4 linked regions of the Homo sapiens genome follow. The protein of the gene in region 4 purifies or fractionates together with the protein of the main gene of each other region. This does not show direct contact. Each region holds a gene or a part of one and is shown on either strand. Other genes may lie near its edges.

Region 1 (3,500 bases), on a different chromosome or scaffold from region 4:
AATTTTTATTTATTTATTTATTTTTTGAGATGGGGTCTTGCTCTGTTGCCCCAGGCTGGAGTGCAGGGGTGCAATTCGGCTCACTGCAACTTCTGCCTCTCAGGTTCAAGCGATTCTTCTGCCTCAGCCTCCCAAGTAGCTGGGATTACAGGCACAGGCCAACATGACCAACTAATTTTTGTATTTTTAATAGAGACGGGATTTCACCATGTTGACCAGGCTGGTCTTGAACTCCTGACCTCAGGTGATCCACCTGCCTTGGCCTCCCAAAGTGCTGGGATTACAGGCATGAGCCACCATGCCAGGCCACTTCATTCCTTTTTATCCCAATCATATTCCATTGTATGGACCCATCATATTTTACTCATCCATTGATCCGTTGGTGGACATTGGAATTGTTTTCACTTTTGAGTTCTTATGAGCAGTGCTGCTGTGAACATCCACGTACCAGGTGTCGTATGCATGTATGTTATAATTTCTTATGGGTATATAACGAGGCCTGGGTCAAGTGGTATCTCTGTTTAACATTTTGGGGGAACGCCAACTGTTCTCCAAAGTAACTGTACCACATTACATTCCCCACCACAGTGCGAGAGGGTTCCAGTGTCTCCACATCCTCGCCAACACTTATTATTATCTGACTTTTTGATTCTAGACATCCTGGTGGTTGTGAAATGGCATTTCAGTGTGGTTTTGATTTGCATTCCTGGAACAACTAATGATGTTGAGCACATTTTCATGGGCCTGTTGTCCACTTGCATATATTCTGTGGAGAGATGTCTGTTCAGATCCTTTGTCCCTTTTAAAATTGGGTTATTTGTCTTATTATTATTATTATTATTATTTGAGACAGGGTTTCGCTCTTGTTGCCCAGGCTGGAGTGCAATGGTGTGATCTCGGCTCACTGCAACCTCCGCCTCCTGGGTTCAAGCAATGCTCCTGCCTCAGCCTCCTCAGTAGCTGGGATTACAGGTGCACACCACCACGCCCAGCTAATTTTGTATTTGTAGTAGAGATGGGGTTTCTCCATGTTGGCTAGGCTGGTCTCAAACTCCAGACCTCAGGTGATCTGCCTGCCTCAGCCTCCCAAGTAATTATCCTGCCTCAGCCTCCTGAGTAGCTGGGATTACAGGCATGCACCACCACGCCCAGCTAATTTTGTATTTTTAGTAGAGATGGGGTTTCTCCATGTTGGTCAGGCTGGTCTCGAACTCCTGACCTCAGGTGATCCACCCGCCTCAGCCTCCCAAAGTGCTGGGATTACAGGCATGAGCCACCGCAGCCGACTGTCTTTTTATTATTGAGTTGCAAATTTTTTTATAGTTTAGTTACAAGTCTCTTATCAGATCTGTAATGTGCACACACTCTCCCCATCCTGTGGTTGTCATCTCTCTTCCTTGATGGCATTGTTTGCAGCTTTTAAAATGTTGATGCTGTCCAATTCATCTCTATGTTTTTGTTTTGTTGCTTGTGTTTTTGGTGTCATGTCTAAGAACCTAACCGAAGGTAAAAAACATTTATGTTTTCTTCTAAGAGTTTTATATCTTCGCTTTTACACTTAGGTCTAGGATCCATGAAAATTAATTTTTTTTGCATGGCGTGAGGTCGGGTCCAGCCACGTTCTTTTGCATGTGGCTACCCAGTTGGCCCAGCACCAGTTGTTGAAAAGATTGCTCTACCCTTGGAATTGTCTTGGCACCCTTGTTGAAAATCAATTGACTGTAAAGATGAGGGCTTATTTCTGGACTCTCAATTCTATTCCGTTGATCTATAGGTCTATTCTTATTTAGTACCTCACTGTCTTGATTATGTGGCTTTGTATTTTAATAGCAAGTTTGGAATCAAGAAATGTGAATTCTGCAATTTTGTTTTTCCTTTTCAATATTGTTTTGAGTATTATTGGCCCCTTTGAATCTCCATATGAATTTTAGGATTGGCTAGTCAATTTCTGCAAAGAAACCAGCTGAGAATTTTGATAGGGACTGTGTTAGGTCTGTAGATCAATTTGGGGTATCTTGTCATTTCAACAATAGTAAGTCTTTTGTTTCATGAACATGGGCTGTCTTTCCACTTATTTAGGTCTTCTCTCATTTCTTTCAAAAAATCTAGATTTTAGGATATAAGTTTGGGACTTTTTAATTAAATTTATTCCTAAGCATTTTATTATCTTGATGATATTACAAATATAATTTTTTAAAACTTCCTTTTGAGACTGTTCATTGCTAATATAGAAATACAATAGTTTTTTGTGTGTTTTTATATATTGACCTTGTATCCTGCAACCTCGTTGAACTATTTTATTAGTTCTAACAGTTTTTTTTCTTTTTTTTCTTTTTTTTTTTTAGTGGATTCCTTAGGATTTCCTATATACAAGATACTGTTTTGGCAAATAGGGATGTTTTTATTTCTTCTTTTCTGATCTGGATGCCTTTTATTTTTCTTTTCCTGCCTAATTGCCCTGGCTAGAGCCTCCAGTGCAATGTTGAATAGAGTGGCAAGAATGGACCCCCCTGTCTTGTTCCTGATCTTTCATCATGAAGTATAATGTTTGCAATGTGATTTTTATAGGTGTCTTTCATCAGCTGAGGGAAGCTCCCTTATAGTCCTAGTTTGTTGTGCGTTTTTATCATGAACGGGTGAATTTTGTCAAATACTTTTCTGTATCTGTTGGAGGATCAGATGGTTTTTGTCCTTTGTTCTCTTAATATGTTGCATTACATCAATTGATTTTTGAATGTTAAACCAACCTCATATTCCTGGGATAAATCCCATTGATCATGGTGTGTAATCTCTTTCCTATGTTGTTGGATTTGATTTACTAGTATTTTGTTGAGGATTTTTTTGTATCTATATTTGTAAGAAATATTGGTCTGTAGTTTTCTTATAATATCTTTTTCTGCTTTTGGCATCAGGGTAATGCTGGCCTCCTAGAGTGAATTGGCAAGTATTTCCTATTCATATTTTTTGGAAGAGTTTGGGAAAAATGGGTATTAGTTCTTTGACTGTTTGGTAAAATTCATCAGGGAAGCCATCTGGACCTGGGATTGTGGACAATTTTTCAATTACGAATTCCATCTCTTTTTTGTTTTAGTTCTATTAAGATTTGTCATGTCTTCATTCTGTTTCAGTAATTTGTGTGTTTCTAGGAATTTGTCCATTTCGTGTCTAGTCTGTTGGCATACACGTGTTCGGAGTTCCCTCAGAATCCCTTTTATTTCTGTGGGGTAGGCATGATCTCCTGTCTTTCATTCCTGATTTTAGCACTTTGAGTCCTCTCATTTTCTCTGTCACTCTAGCTAGAAGTTTGTCCATTTTGTTGATCTTTTCAAAACATCAACTTTTTGTTTTGCTGTTTTTTCCTATTTTTCGATTCTTATTTCTGTTCTAACATTTCATTCCTTCTGCTTGCTTTGGGTTTAATTATGCTCTTTTTCTGGTGTCTCAAAGTGGAAGATTGGGCTATTGATTTGAGATCTTCTTTCGTAATGCAAGCACATACA
Region 2 (2,363 bases), on a different chromosome or scaffold from region 4:
TTGTGTATAGATCAAAGCACACACCCTCTCTCATATAATTGGATATTTCCAAGAATTGAAAACCCATGTGAAGCATTATAGATAGTTTTAAATTTAACCCACTGGAGTTTTCTTGAAATACCACTTCTTTTATATTATATAAAACTAAAAACACGACTGTTACCTTTTGTGTGAACCAAAGGATACTTCAGATCTCAGAGCTGCCAATTATGGGGTACTAAAGGTTTTTAAGACATCCAGTTCTCCCGAATTTGGGATTGCCTCTTTTTCTTGAAATCTCTGGAGTAGTAATTTTTTTCCCCCTTTTTTGAAGGCAGTACCTTAACTTCATATGCCTCTGACTGCCATAAGCTTTTTTGATTCTGGGATAACATAACTCCAGAAAAGACAATGAATGTGTAATTTGGGCCGATATTTCACTGTTTTAAATTCTGTGTTTAATTGTAAAATTAGATGCCTATTAAGAGAAATGAAGGGGAGGATCATCTTAGTGGCTTGTTTTCAGTAGTATTTTAATATCAGCTTCTTGTAACCTTTTCCATGTTGTGAGGGTTGTAAGGGATTGTGTGGCAACAGCAGCTTCCCTTGGCTAACTCAATCTTCTACCCATTGCTTAGAGCAGGGAGCCCTCCTTATTTACTACTGAAGACCTTAGAGAACTCCAATTGTTTGGCATATATTTTTGGTGGTGGTTTTTATTCCTCCTGGAGAGTTATCTAATTTGTTTCTAAAACAAACAAGCAGCAAAGAAATGAATTAAATACTGGGGTTGAGAATTAAAATTAAGTGGATGTTCACAGTTGCCCAATATATATGACCTGCAAATGATACGAAAAAGTGCAGCATTTAGTGGCAGTTAACAAGAGTGACAAGCCTGGGGCAGAGGTACCAAACCTCTCCCACCAGAGAGCTAGAAGTATTTTATACAGTAACTTTGATCTTATGGAAGTGACCTTCAATGCTTATTCTGAAGTAACCTATATGGTGGATACAGGATGAACATTCAGTGCCAGGGAGAATCTTCTCAGGTTGGTTCTCGTTAGAGTGATAAACTGGCTAGGGGCCATAGTATTGGTCCTGTTAGGTTTCGGTCATGGAAAAAAAAATTATTTTGGGGTCATCCTGGCTCTAGATGTTATGGGCAAATTTCTGAAACATCTGCAAGAAGGTACCAGTTAATTATAGTGCTTAATATTGGGAATAAGATTAAGCATTATAATTATAATGTATGGGCCTGTTGGTGTAAGCTCAGATAATTAAATAAAAATAGCATGACTCAAATGAGACATATTCTGCTGAACAGTTTCTACTTCCTCTCCCGCCTGTCCTGTCATGGGAGACGTGTATAGTTGCTGCTGTTTCAGCAAACCACCATAAGACGAAAATGCCTCAGGTTGGGTTGCCAGTCCTTTACAACTCAGCTTGAATTTCACAACAGTGATTGTGAGAATCTGCGTGGTATACACTGAAATATCGGTGTGCTGTGATGCAAAGCTTACCTTTGACGATATTGAATGTGATATAGCTGTAGAGAAGTACTTCCTTGCCTTATGTGAGGATTTCAAACTTATTTAAATTATGTAGACAAATCAAAGTGGCATTGCTTAATTTTTAGCAGGCATAATAAGCAAGTTAACAGTAAAATGCAAAACATGATAAGCGTTGCTCAATTTTTAGCAGGTATAATAAGCAGGTTAACAGTAAAAATGCAAAACATGATAGATAAGTCACTTTGAAAATTCAAACCAAAGTTCCTTCACCTTATGGAAATAGGAAATTATGGACTTCAAAATTGGACACTTCCTGTTTACAAAAAGAAATTCAGAGCTAAAATCATGGTAAAAAAAAATAGAAACACTTGAGAACTATGGTCTTTATGGGTGCAATTTGAAATCCTTTTCATCATCTTACCAGACTAAACTAAGAGCACATACCAAACCTATCTTATGGTTGAAAGTTGGGGTTTATTTTTTATATGAGAATATTATCACTATTACATAACATACTCAGGACAAAGAACTTTGCTCAGGGAACATACCATGTAATATTTTTGTTGTTTCTTTACAGACTAGTCTACAGTCCTGCTTACTCAAAACAAACCAAATAACTTATACCTTTATATAAGTATTATGTACTGATGATAGTAACTACCTCTGAGTTTGACACAGATCAAAATTTTTGAATATCAGATATCAGTTATCCTATTTTTATTTCATGTGAAAACTCCTCTAAAGCAGATTCCCTCAACTCTGTGCATATGTGAATATCACTGATGTGAACACATTGTTCATTTACATAGGTAAAATATTACTCTGTTTACAGCAAAAGGCTACCTCATAGTTGATACATAGCACACCTGTATG
Region 3 (3,500 bases), on a different chromosome or scaffold from region 4:
GGCCAGGCATGGTGGCTCAATCCTAGCACTTTGAGAGGCCAAGGTGGGCAGATCACAAGGTCAGGAGTTCGAGACCAGCCTGACCAACATAGTGAAACCCCGTCTCTAGTAAAAATACAAAAATTAGCTGGGCATGGTGGTGTGCATCTGTAATCCAGCTACTCAGGAGGCTGAGGCAGGGAATCGCTTGAACCCAGGAGGCAGAGGTTGCAGTGATTGCTGCAGTGATTGATTGCAGAGCTGAGATTGCGCCATTGCACTCCAGCCTGGTGACAGAGCGAGACTCCGTCTCAAAAAAAAAAAAAAGTTTAGGCTGGGCAAAGTGGCTCATGCCTGTAATCGTAGCACTTTGGGGGGCCAAGGTGGGAGGATTGCTTGAGGCCAAGAGTTCAAGACCAACCTGGCCAACAAAGCAAGACCTCGTCTCTTTTTATATTAAAAAAAAAAAAAGCAGAAGGCATAAAGCAAAAGATTAATATTTCATTTCTTACATTAAAATTAAAAACTTCTTGCTCTACAAATAAACTAGCAGCTTTTTGTTCTTCAGAGACCCCATTAAGAGAGTGATTAGACAAGCCACAGAGTGGGAGAAGTTATTTGTAACACGTAACCAACAGAGAACTAGTAGTTAGAATTATTTAAATAACTCCTTTAGGTCAGTAAGAAGACAGATAACTTGAGAAAAATCAGGCCAAAGATGTGAACAAGTCCATTCATAAAAGAGGAAAATACAAACGGCTAAAAAAGCAAAAAAAAAAAAAAAAAGATTAGTCACATTGGTAGTCAGGAAGATGAAAATTAAAATCACAATGAGATACTACTGTAACCCTTGCCAGATTAGAAAAAAAAGCTAAAAGTCTGTCAACACCAAGTATTGGTGAAGATGTGGATTTGTGGATCAATGGCAACTCTCATATACTGCTTGTAAAACTATAATTTAGTACATCCTTTTTTCTTTCTCTTTTTTTTTTTTTTTTTTGAGACACAGTCTCACTTTGTCACTCAGGCTGGAGTGCAGTGGTACGATCTTGGCTCACTGCAACCTCTGCCTCCCAGGTTCAGGCGATTCTTGTCCCTCAGCCTCTTGAGTAGCAGGGATAATAGGCGTGGATCACTACACCCGGCTAATTTTTTTATTTTTAGTAGAGAAGGGGTTTTACCATGCTGGCCAGGCTGATCTTGAACTCTTGGCTTGAAGTGGTCCGCCTGCCTCGGCCTCCCAGAGTGCTGGGATTACAGGCATGAGCCCCCGTACCCAGCCTTGTACAACCTTTTTGAAAAGCTATTGGCCATTATCTATTAACATCAAAGTTTCTTATATTGTATGACCCAGCAATTTTACTGCTAGTGATATACCCTAGAGAAACTAGTGTATATGTGTACCAGGAGACACATACAAGAAGATAGCAGCATTGTATAAAATAGCGGAAAATAACAGCACAAATGCCCATCGGGGGGTAAATGAATCAGTTAATTGTGGTATAGTCATACAGTGGAATACGAAGTACTGCAAGAATGCGTGAAATCACAGTGGAATATAACAGTGTTCAACATGAAACAAGATGTGTGAAAGTAGCAGTTTGCAAGAGTTCGTATCATATGATTGTATTTATATAAAATCCAAAAAATAGTCAACATTAAACAATATGTATTTGGTGATAAAAATATATTTAGTAACATTTATAAAGAAAAGTCAGGGTGTTATTAACTCAAGATTCAGAATGGTGGTGACTTCCAAGGGTAGAGGGAGTCCACAGGGGCTTTGGAGATAAGGTCATGTCCCATTTATGGTAGATATTCTCTCTTGTATCATTGTTTCTATCAGTCTACGTACTATTTTATGAAAACATTAAAAAGGAGGACAGTTGTTTATAGTACCTGATAAGTAATAGTATTTATTAAACTTTTGTAGTTTTTAGTATTTTGGAACTCATTAGTGTTTTTGAGTTTATTTTATATGTACTTGACAATTCAATGTAAAAAACAAACATGGCTGGGCGCAGTGGCCCATGCCTGTAATCGCAGCACTTTGGGAGTTCGAGGCTCCCAAAGTTCAAGATCAGCTTGGGCAATACGGTGAAACTCCATCTCTACAAAAAATACAAAAATTACCCAGTCGTGGTAGCATGCGTCTGTGGTCGAAGCTAGTTGAGGGGCTGAGATGGGAGGATTGCTTGAGCCCAGGAGGTTGAGGCTGCAGTGAGCTGTGATTATGCCTCTGAGTAACAAAGTGAGACCCTGTCTCAAAAAAAAAACCAAAAAACACCAACACATACTCAATATAAATTTAAATTTCTTGATGCTTTATGGTTTTTGCTTTAAATTAGAAATTAAAGGATTTAAAAAATATATAAAATATATAAACATATGACAAATAAGAATCTTGATTATTTGGGTGAAGAAAGAAAACAAAATCACGAATTTAAATTTCCAGGGCTCTATTTTATGTTTTTCAGCAAGGTCATTTGAATATAAAATATTTAATAAGGACCTCAAATCATATTCTCTTGTTCAAGTACTTTAAAAGTTGATTCCAGAGCCCTTAAAATGTATGAAGGATGCTTTTCCAGACTGAGTCATAAGAAGTCCTAAAAGCCAAAGAATTTAAAGGGTTGTAAAGCAAATAGCCAGAGAAGTGTCAGACCTGTTTTATTTTTGATGTTACCTTCTGAAGGAATTTCTCCTGGGAAGTTTTTCCATTTGTATTTCGATCTCAAAACTAAATTTGGAAAAATCATCTTGTTCATATTATCAGTCTGGATGTGCATATTCATATCTCAAAAGTATTAATTGGAGGCAGATCACCAGTAGAAATTAAATTCAAATGAAAAATAATGTTGATACACTTTATGCTTTTGCTATTGATTTTTTAGCCTTAAAAGATTGGTAAAATATTAGTATTTTCCTTTTTCCCTTGCATGTTTACAACAGTGAAAAAATGTGTAGCTAAATATAGATTGAAAATGTGGCAGACCCCCGAGTTAAGCAGTCAGGTTTTCAGTACCATTCAGATTTGGTTCTTTGAGGTTAGAGTTCTCATCATCTCAAAGATGAGATTACTTCCTAGACCTAGAGATGTTATCAAATCAAGGCTGTGTACATTTTATTTCCTTGGTCTTTTTTTAGACTCCATAATCTGAATCATTGTTTTTATCAGATGCCAAATCTTTTATTTTCATTTGTTAATCATAATTTATCATTAGGAAACCAAATTGTGCATTGTTCATTTCTTATTTAGATTATGCTTAATAACTAGTAGGTTAGGATTCTTATAGACTGCTGGAGAGTGGCTTGGGTAAGGAACACATCTCTCTGAAATATTACCTCTATTGTGACATGACTAAATCATTGATGTAAATGATTAGGAAACTTAAAACCTACTTAACACATTGTATTTTTTTTTCTTCTTTTGGTATTTAGGTGTTCACTCAACTTGGATCTGTGCTGAAAAATTGTGACATTTCAGTACATCTGGTAGAGGTAAGCCAAAAATTAAGTGA
Region 4 (3,660 bases):
CACATGCCACCACACCTGGCTAATTTTTTTTTGCATATTTTGTAGAGACAGGGTTTTGCCATGTTGCCCAGGCTGGTCTTGAAATCCTGGGCTCAAGTGATCCACCCACCTCAGCCTCCCAAAGTGCTGGGATTACAGGTATGAGCCACTGAGCCCAGCCACCATCTCTACAAATTTTTTTTTTTTTTTGAGACGGAGTCTTGCTCGGTTGCCTAGGCAGTGGGTGTGATCTTGGCTCACTGCAACCTCCACCTCCCAGGTTCACTGCCTCAGCCTCCTGAGTAGCTGGAACTACAGGCGCGTACCACCACACCCAACTAATTTTTGTACTTTTTGTAGAGACGGGGTTTCACCATGTTGGCCAGGCTAGTCTCGAATTCCTGTCCTCGTGATCCGCCCACCTTGGCCTCCCAAAGTGCTGGGATTACAGGCACAACTCAGCAGTAAGCAAGATCCGTAATAAACATTTACTTTCTTAGCAAATCCTCAAAACCATAACATGAGGTAGGAACTTTTATTATCACAAGTCCAGAGAGGTAAAGTTACTTGCCCAATGCCACACAGCAAGCAAGTGGCCTGTCCAGGATGTGATCTTAGGTTTGTCTGACTGCAGAGCCCCCACCCTCACTTTCCAGTGTGTGTGAGGGGGTCAGGAACAGAGGGAGGACTATTGTAAGCGGAGCCCCAGGCACTGTAGGGTCCTGGAGAAATAAGGGGGCAGTGGTGCCAGGAGCTCAACAGGGGTGTCCCTGGCCCTGGTGCCTGGGAGAAGGAGCCGATGTAGGTGGAGGTGCAAGGGCAGCTGGGCAGCCTGGGAGGGGGTCAGGTGGAGGCGTCTGAGGAGGGCTTCATCCAGGACCTGGAGCGGGAGAGGTACGTTGTGTTCAGCCCCACATTTTCCAAGCAGCTGAGTACCCAGCTCTAAGGGAAATGGGAGTAAGGCGGGCGCTTCCTCCATTCCCCACTGTTCTGCAACTGTTAATCATTTCCTCTTTGCACACAGATGTGCACATTCACACAGGCACTCACACTGCAGCAGAGACTGGCTAGGGGGTCACCCAATCAGTTTCCTCCTAGGCACACACCTCAACTCCATTTCCCAGCCCTCTCACAGCTTGGTGAGACGTGAGTGAGCTCTAGCTGAGTGAATGTGGGTGGCAGTATGTATGCCACTTCCACACCTGGCCCAGAAAAACCTTATCCACTTGAACCTACACTGTCTCCCCTCATCTGGCTGGGTATCAACAGCCTGGGTCCCTGAGTACTTAGTGCTTGAAGCAGAGCCCACTCCCATTATTTGACCTTAACATGAGGGCACAGTTCTTGTGTGAAGACTCTGGTAGTCTGGGCTTAGTGTGTTAGAGCAGGTAGAGGCATCTGGTGTCCTAATACACGCATGCCTTTGACCCTTTGTACCAGACTCAAAGAATGGCAGACTTAAGAGGGCTTTAGAAATTAGCCACATCAACTCCCTTATTGAACACATGGACAGAATGAAGCCCAAGAGAGTGAGTGTTACTTGCCCAAGGCCACACACCAAGATGTGGGTACGGATACAGCCTTGGGAGCCAAAAGGGCTGCCTCCCAGTAGTCCCAAGCTGCACAGATAAGGTCTGGAGATGCTGCCCATGCTCACCTCTCCCTCCACCCCTCAGAAAGCAGCAGGCAGGTGGGCTGGAGTACCTGTCTTTGGGGCTTGTTGTTCTCAGCTGGCAGCAGAAATCGCTGGCCCAGGACAGTGCCCACACGGGCAGAGTACATGTGGTCCCCAAGCACAGGGCAGAGCTGTAGTACCATGTGCACCTGTAGTTGACTGGAGAACACTGGGCAACAGGAAAGCCAGGAGAGACAGTGGGCAGCTACTCGTTCTGTGCCACCCAGTATCACTCCTCCCCTTTTCCTTTGGGGAAACACCACCCCCTTTCTCAGATCATATGTTTCAGTGAGGTCAGTACTATGGCCCCTGCATCCAGAGAGGGACACATAACACGTCAGGACGATCACAGCTATCAATCTGCCTGGCTGTGGGATCCACTCATGATGAGATGCAACCCTGATTTAATTGCTGAAGCCACCGGGCCTAAGGACTGTTCTTTCCTGTTGGGGTGCTAGCCTGAAGCTGCCTCCTCTAGCTGGGCCTGGTCACATACACCTCTGGGGGCCATCAAATGCTCCCCAGGCTGCTGCTGATACCACTGTCTCCCCAGCTCCTTGCCTCCCTAAGCCAAGTGCAGTTTTTTTTTTTTTTAGCCAGCGTTTCACTCTGTCTCCCAGGCTGGAGTGCAATGGTGTGATCTTCGCTCACTGCAACCTCTGTCTCCCAGGTTCAAGCGATTCTCCCGCCTCAGCCTCCCAAGTAGCTAGGATTACAGGTGCGTGCCACCAACTCCAGCTAATTTTTGTATTTTTAGTAGAGACAGGGTTTCACCATGTTAGCCTGGCTGGTTTCGAACTCCTGACCTCAAGTGATCCATCCGCCTTGGCCTCCCAAAGTGCTGGGATTACAGGCGTGAGCCACCGCGCCTGGCTCAAGTGCAGTTTTTTTTTTTTTTAGATGAAGTCTCCTCTATCACCTAGACTGGAGTGCAGTGGCATGATCTTGGCTCATTGCAACTTCTGCCTCCCAGGTTCAAGCGATTCTCCTGCCTCAGCCTCCCGAGTAGCTGGTTTTACAGGCGCCTGCCACCGTGCCCAGCTAATTTTTGTAGTTTTTAGTTGAAACAGGGTTTCACCATCTTGGCCAGACTGGTCTTGAACTCCTGACCTCGTGATCCACCTGCCTCAGCCTCCCAAATCAAGTGCAGTTTTAAAGGCTGGCTAGGGTGCCAGACCTACCTGTCAGTGGCTGCAGCTGGACCAGGGCACAGCCAGAGCCTGTGGCTACCACACGAAAGTGACTGAGAGTCTTCTTGACACCTTCCAGGATGTCCTTTCGGGATGGGGCCTTCACTGGAACTGTCTGTGGTGCCAGCCAAGAGTGAACAAGCCTTACACAGGTCTGGGAGCTATACCCAGACCCTCCCTGCTCCCAATAGACTCCGGGCAGGGCCACAGTATAGGCAGTGGTCACTTGCCTGTTTTAGGGGACAGGAGAGCCAGCCATCCCAAATCCATACCCCTGACTCCTCTCTGTAGGGGTACTATATCTAGAAGCACCCCTCCTCTTCCCAGACCCGGACTCACGAGATTGACCCCATCAATGTGTTCCAGTTTCAGGGCAGCCTGGATCTTCCCCTCAGAAGCAGCTGGGATCCCATCAGTGACAGCACTGAGAAAGGGGCAGGAGGAGGTCACAGGGTGGCTTGCTGGGACCTCCCCACCACTCTAGGAACCTCCCAGCACCTCTCACCAGTAGGTGGCTGTGGGCCTTTGGGCTCTCCGTGCATGGGTGAAGTACTTCTGGAGGCGACTAGCTGTCTGGGGACAGCTGGAGAGGAGTACAAGCCCAGAGCTTTCTCTGGAATAAGCAGACAAATCACACAAGTTAAAGTCCCTTGAACTCGCCCACTAAAAAGGAAACTCTTAGGAACACTGACCTGCTTCAGGCCAAACACTAACACCAGGACTATAACCTAGACCAACTCCTGAGAAACAAGTAAGGTTTCCCCTTCTTTGATAACAAGACTATGTAGCTTAATGTGTTTCTCATTTTGCCCCGGC

What was found. The genes of interacting proteins can lie anywhere in the genome.
Region 1: the proteins of RPUSD3 (region 4) and SARDH purify together in Homo sapiens (affinity purification with mass spectrometry; one large-scale study listed by BioGRID and IntAct). This does not show direct contact.
Region 2: the proteins of RPUSD3 (region 4) and LIN28B purify together in Homo sapiens (co-immunoprecipitation; one large-scale study listed by IntAct). This does not show direct contact.
Region 3: the proteins of RPUSD3 (region 4) and NDUFAF7 purify together in Homo sapiens (affinity purification with mass spectrometry; 2 studies listed by BioGRID and IntAct, with this or other methods). This does not show direct contact.

Annotation. Positions count from the first base shown.
Region 1 is NC_000009.12:133,696,853-133,700,352, reverse strand, and holds part of SARDH (sarcosine dehydrogenase, mitochondrial precursor), read left to right. Parts: intron 1-3,500. UniProt on the Homo sapiens protein: Catalyzes the last step of the oxidative degradation of choline to glycine. Converts sarcosine into glycine.
Region 2 is NC_000006.12:105,079,107-105,081,469, forward strand, and holds part of LIN28B (protein lin-28 homolog B), read left to right. Parts: 3' UTR 1-2,363. UniProt on the Homo sapiens protein: Suppressor of microRNA (miRNA) biogenesis, including that of let-7 and possibly of miR107, miR-143 and miR-200c.
Region 3 is NC_000002.12:37,238,158-37,241,657, forward strand, and holds part of NDUFAF7 (protein arginine methyltransferase NDUFAF7, mitochondrial), read left to right. Parts: intron 1-3,420; coding exon 3,421-3,500. UniProt on the Homo sapiens protein: Arginine methyltransferase involved in the assembly or stability of mitochondrial NADH:ubiquinone oxidoreductase complex (complex I).
Region 4 is NC_000003.12:9,837,349-9,841,008, forward strand, and holds the end of RPUSD3 (mitochondrial mRNA pseudouridine synthase RPUSD3), read right to left. Parts: intron 3,458-3,660; coding exon 3,350-3,457; intron 3,269-3,349; coding exon 3,184-3,268; intron 2,988-3,183; coding exon of another isoform or gene 2,960-2,987; coding exon 2,836-2,959; intron 1,824-2,835; coding exon 1,684-1,823; intron 860-1,683; coding exon 668-859; 3' UTR 501-667; downstream 1-500. UniProt on the Homo sapiens protein: Catalyzes uridine to pseudouridine isomerization (pseudouridylation) of specific mitochondrial mRNAs (mt-mRNAs), a post-transcriptional modification necessary for their translation.